Regions from separate parts of the Homo sapiens genome. Here region 1 is linked to region 2. The links come from fine-mapping of genetic effects on gene expression. A gene starts in region 2. The other region holds a variant in brackets. All regions are shown on one strand. Distances are from middle to middle. Region 1 holds the start of RPL13A (ribosomal protein L13a). Region 2 holds the start of ALDH16A1 (aldehyde dehydrogenase 16 family member A1).

Region 1 (2,904 bases), 34 kb before region 2:
CAATCTAATTCTCTTCTAATGTATAGGATGTTTCTACCACAAATTTAATTTGGAAGAAAACCGAATTTCAGGTGGGATGAGATTAGGCAGAGTAGTCAAAAGCCCATGCTAGCTCTGCTATAGAGCACTCTGCTTTCCCCGGTAAACTGCTCAGGCACCGAACCTCAGCTTCCTCCGGAGTAGAAATCCTGGCCGGGCACAGGGGCTCACGCCTGTAATCCCAGCACTTTGAGAGGCCTAGGTGGGCAGATCAGTTGAGGTCAGGAGTTCGAGACCATCCTGGCCAATATGGTGAAACCCTGTCTCTACTAAAAACACAAAAATTAGCCAAGCGTCGTGGCAGGCACCTGCAGTCCCAGGTACTCGGGAAGCTGAGGCAGGAGAATCACTTGAACTTGGGAAGCAGAGGTTGCAATGAGCCAAGATCGCACCATTGCACTCCAGCCTGGGTGTCACAGCGAGACTCCGTCTCAGAAAAAACACTAAAAGTAGAAATCCTCATTGTTTTAATGCAAAAGCATGAAGCACACACTGGTTGTTACACATGCTTTGTAAGCGTTGGTACAAAGACTCTAAAATCCAGACAGACTTCCTGAAGTCGTGACCTTGGCCCAAAATCACCAATTCCAATTTAATTTCCTCCTCTGTAAAACAAGGATACCAGTAACTGCCTCAGGAATATGGTTAACTGAACTACGCAAAACATTGCGAACTGTGCTAGGCACAAAGACACATGCTTGGTGAACACAACTTGCCTAGATCGGCCTGGCTCTGAAATGTCACCCGCCCCAACAACAGACTACTCACAAAGAAACCTTTCCAGGGCCAATCCCTCCTTTATACTTAAGTAGCTACACCAGGAGCCAGGGAAAGGGCCCCCAGGTGTCAGGCCCAAAAGATGTCCCATCCTTGTGGAACCATTCATCACAGCTCTCGACTTCCAGTAACACGCCTCAGGACAATCGCCAATCCCCAAAACGACGGAAAACGAGTTCATTCCAGAGTGCCCCGCAGCCAACAGCTCTCGACCCCCCGCAGAAAGGCATTGAGAATTAAAAGAACCGGAGCTGCAGGGGACCCCGATTAACACCTCCACGTGAAATCAAAGTAGCCCGCGCACTGAGCGGGATAAAAATACCTTCCATTTTGGCCAAAACTCAGTTTCTCATTGCCCCGAGACCGCCCGGCCACACTTCCGCGTGTTCCTCATCGCTGAGGACACACAAGGGTCCAATTCGGCCAAGACTCTACCCCAGGGCCCCCACCCACTACCCGAGTTCAAGGTAAGCAAAATCTAGTTGCAAAATACCTGTCCTGTGCTGGAAGCTCTATCACCCTCGCCTCGAGAAGGAAATGCCACATTGTAGCCAACCCTAGGCCTAAAGAGAGCCGCGGCATTTCCTACAGATTCCCCTTATCCCAAAAGACTTCCATTTTGCTTCATTATGGATGTTAAGCTC[C/A]GCAAAACATGCAAGACAGAGAGGGTGCGACCCCATTCCGGCCTGGATCCCACCCGGCCCCTTGCCGCCCCGGCCCGCGCGGAGCCCATACCTGCACCTCCGCCATCTTCGGCAGCCGCTTGGAAAAGGAGGAGGTTTTGTCGCAGGGTTTCTTATCCCTTGAAACAGGGGCGGCAGAAGTGACGCAACGCGGTTGCGCGGACGGCTTCCTGTGTTTTCATTGGTCGAAGCGTTCTGCGCGTGCGCAGAGATTCCCCAGGGAAGGCGGGCCCTCTTCCGAATGTCCAATCCGGACATTCTTCCGGTTGGACCTCCGCGGTCAGCGCTGTGCCCGGCGAGAGATCACGTGGGGCGCGGAGGCGGTGCTGCTGGGGCACGGCCGTCCAGCCTCGGCGGCCATATTTTTGAGGGGCTGTTCATCTCGTTCACACGCTCTGTCCGCCATGTTTGTGAGTGGAAGCGCCATTACCCCTTCAAGCGACTGAAGGCTGCAGGGCCTCTGGTGGCCCGCATGGGGAGACCAGACCCGCCAGGCCCGCCTTTCCGCACTCAGTCCGGGCTTACTTTATTTTGTGAGACAGGGTCTCGCTGTGTTGTCCACACCAGAGTGCTGTGGGGCGATCATGGCTCACCGCAGCCTCCACTTCCTGGGCTCAAGGGATCCTCCTGCCTCAGCCTCTCGAGTAACTTGGACTACAGGGGCGCGCCACCATGCCTGGCTAATATATATATATATATATATTTTGTTGTGGCCCGGGAACGGGGGGAGTCTGACATGTTGGCCAGGCTGATCTCGAACTCCTGGGCTCAAGCGATCCTCCCGTTTCGGCCTCCCAAAGTGCTGGGATTACCGGCGTGAGCCCCGGAGCCTTGCCCATTCTAGGCTTAGAGATTTGGATTCCTGTGTCTGGTCGACTTCACTGTGACCTGGAGAAACCCTTGGCCTTATCTGGGCCTCAGTTTATCCATCTGTAAAACAGATGGAGGTGGTCTTCCCCAGGGGCTCTAAGAGTGGATCAAGGAATGGCTTCTAGTTGCCTGGCTGCACCAATCCACTGAGCGTTCCTCAGAGGAACTTCTCACTTTCTGGACTGTCGGCCTTTGCTTCAGCTGGGTCCCTTGCCCAGGATGCCCTCCCCACCCCCTCCAAATCTGGCTTGTCACCATCGCAATGCCATTTGGCTCTGGAAAGCCTCTCTGCTCTCCCTGCCTGGGTGAGTTGCCCCTCACACTGCCTCTGTTTTATCTCCATAGTAGCCTATGGCATCCTGCACCCAGGCTCGCTGAATCCCTTGTCTTCTCGTCCATAGCCAAGGAGACCTGGGGCACCTGGGCTGGTTCTGACTCAAATCCAGGCTCTGACATTGCCCAGCGCCGGCCCGGGGCTCCAGGGGACCTCAGAAAACACGTATTGAATGAAACATTGCATTGCAATTCAAAAACC
Region 2 (2,904 bases):
CTCCGTTGCCCAGGCTGGAGTGCAGTGGTGCAATCTCAGCTTACTGCAACCTCTGCCTCCTGGATTCAAGCAATTCTCCCACCTCAGCCTCCCAAGTAGCTAGGATTACAGGCAAACACCACCACGCTCAGGTAATTTTTGTATTTTAGTAGAGATGGGGTTTCACCATGTTGGCCAGGCTGGTCTCGAACTCCTGACCTCAGGTGATCCGCCCACCTAGGACTCCCAAAGTGCTGGGATTACAAGTCTGAGCCACCACGCCTGGCCCAATGTTTTGTATTTTAGTAGAGACGAGGTTTCACTATGTTGCCCAGGCTGGTCTCGAATTCCTGAGCTCAGGCGATCTGCCCGTCTTGGCCTCCCCAAGTTCTAGGCTGTGCCAGGGTTCTGATCCAGTTCCTTCCACTTGGATCATTGCTCTGGCCTCCTGCCCTCCCCCTCAAAGAAGCCTAAGCTCCTTTCGCCTGGGTGCTGGGGGACCCTGGGGGATCATGAGAGCCCCGTGAAGGAATTCTGAGAGTGCCTGGGGAAACGACAGAAAGTTTGAGGTGCCCTACTCATTTGCAGGAACCCCACGAGGGTTCTGGGGGCCTCTGAGGGGTCATGGGAGTCCTAGGGAGGTTCTGAGGACCCCCAGGGGATCATGGGACCCTCACGAGGACTTCAGGGGTTCCTGAACAATCATGGGAACCCTATGGGACATTCTGAGAGCTAGAGAGATCATAGGAGCCCCGTGAGGGTATTGTGAGGGGCCATAAGTAATTACAGGAAGTCCTGATGTGGCTGGGTGCAGTAGCTCACGCCTGTAATCCCAGCACTTTGGGAAGTCGAGGTGGGTGGATCACTTGAGGCCAGGAGTTCGAGACCAGCCTGGCCAACATGCTGAAACCTTGTCTCTAGAAAAAGTACAAATATTAGCTGAGAGTGGTGGCGCGCGTCTCTGGTCCCAGTTACTTGGGGGGCTGAGGTGAGAGGATGGCTTGAGCCCAGGAGGTTGAGGCTGCAGTGGTGTGATAGCGCCAGTGCACTTCAGTTTGGGCGACAGAGTGAGACCCTGGCTCAAAAAAAAAAACAAAAAAAAAACCCAACCCAAACCGGAAGTCCTGATGTATTCTAGGCTCCTGAGAGTTCCGATGAGGTCACATGAACCCCACGAGTATTGAGGGGTCCTATGGGATCACGGGGGCTCCATGGAAGTTCTGAAGGTCTCTGGGTAATCAAAGGGATGAAGGGAGTCCCTCAGGAGGTCTGGGGTGCTCTGGAGGCCCATGGAAGCCATAGGATGTTTTGAAGAGTCGTGGAAAGACAATGGGGGTTGTGGGTCACTGGAGCCTCACAGGAATCCTAAGGGGTCTGGTGGGTGGCGTCAGGTTCTGAGGGGACCCTGAGGAATCACGAGAGCGTCTAGAGGAGTTCAGGAAAACCGCGGAAACACTACGAGGAGTTCAGGATCAAGGGGCAAGAGAACCAGTGGGGAAGACCGGAACAGACTAAAAGGCTGCCACCGCCAAGGCTCAAGGGAGCGTCCTACAGGGCGCGATCCTATTGGGCGGCGGGAATCACGGGGACTAAGAGAGGCGGAGCGGCTGAGCTACCGCAGTGGATGACGGGACTCCCCGCGAAAAACCGGGCGCCCAGGCCTGGGGAACGCAGCGAGCAGCGCCGGCCGGGCAGACTCTCACCAGTGCGCATGCGTGGCTCTCCGGCACCGGTCCGTACTCCAGCGAGGTGAAGATCTCGCGGGCGCGGGGCCCTGCACGCGTCGCAGCCATCGCCTACCCCGAACGCTTTCCGCGAAGACTGCGGGGCGCTCTGTGTTAAGGGGAACCTTGAGGTCCGAAGAGCGACACCTCCGGTTCCAGCCCAAAGGGGCGGGGCTAATGGGAATGGGGTGGGGCTACAAGATACAGAGAGCAGCCACGCCCACACTTTTTCCTTAGGACCCGATGGCCCCGCCTACGTCCCCCACGGGGAAGCGTATTTAGGAGCATGCGCACTGCTTAAAACGGGGAGGAAGGGGAGACGGCGATGTGGGTACTTTGCGAATAGTTAGGAGGGCTCCGGATTTATGAGGATCGGCGTGGCCGGGCACGATGGCTCTTGGCTGTAATCCCAGCACTTCGGGAGGCCGAGGCGGGCGGATCACCTAAGGTCGGGAGTTCGAGACCAGCCTGACCAATTTGGTGAAACCCCGTCTCTACTAAAAATACAAGCATTAGCCGAGCTGTGGTGGTGCGCGCCTGTAATCTCAGCTACTCAAGAGGCTGAGGCGGGAGAATCACTTGAACCCAGAAGGTGTACGTTTCAGTGAGCCGAGATCGCGCCACTGCACTCCAGCCTGGGTGGCAAAGGGAGACTGTGTCTAAAAAAAAAATAGTAATAAAAAAAAAGGGTCGTCCTATTGATGCGTCTTCCCAGTGCCTTGTTTTATAGTAGCAGGAAGTGCAGGTTTTGTTTTACCTTTTATTTTCTTGAGACAGGGTCTCCCTCTGTCGCCCAGGGCTGGAGTGCAGTGGTCCGATCACGGCTTACTGTCGCCTCGACTTTTCAGGTTTAAACATTACTCCTGCGTCAGCCTGCACAGTAGCTGGGACTACAGGCAGGTGCCATCAAGCCTGGCTAATTTTTTTTTTTTTTTTTTTTTTGGTAGAGACAGGATCTTGCTATGTTGCTCAGGCTGGTCTCGAACTCCTGGGCTCAAGCGATCCTCCTACCTCGGCCTCCCAGCCTCAAAGTGCAGCTTTTCTAATTATATTGACTAGAGGTCTAGATCTAGATCTAGACCTGGCGGGTCTAGATCTGGACGTATTAGGATCTAGAGCTGGCAGGAAGTGATAATTCAAAGATAAAAAGGGTACCTTTTAGGATGGACATTGAGATTAAGGTTTGGAAAATGCAACCTTC

The links. PIP is the estimated chance that this variant, and not a neighbour inherited with it, causes the effect. A credible set is the group of variants that fine-mapping cannot tell apart.
Region 1: its variant is the best candidate, but not a certain one, in a credible set for the expression of ALDH16A1 in whole blood (GTEx, PIP 0.56).

Annotation. Positions count from the first base shown.
Region 1 is chr19:49,486,292-49,489,195 of GRCh38, reverse strand. RPL13A (ribosomal protein L13a) reads right to left here and starts at 1,588. Exons shown (of 8, transcript NM_012423.4): 1 at 1,552-1,588. The coding sequence starts at 1,566. RefSeq lists enhancers at 1,008-1,612, 1,521-1,640, 1,701-2,200. The variant C/A (reference allele first, on the strand shown) is at 1,461.
Region 2 is chr19:49,452,200-49,455,103 of GRCh38, reverse strand. ALDH16A1 (aldehyde dehydrogenase 16 family member A1) reads right to left here and starts at 1,879. Exons shown (of 17, transcript NM_153329.4): 1 at 1,683-1,879. The coding sequence starts at 1,772. RefSeq lists an enhancer at 327-1,286.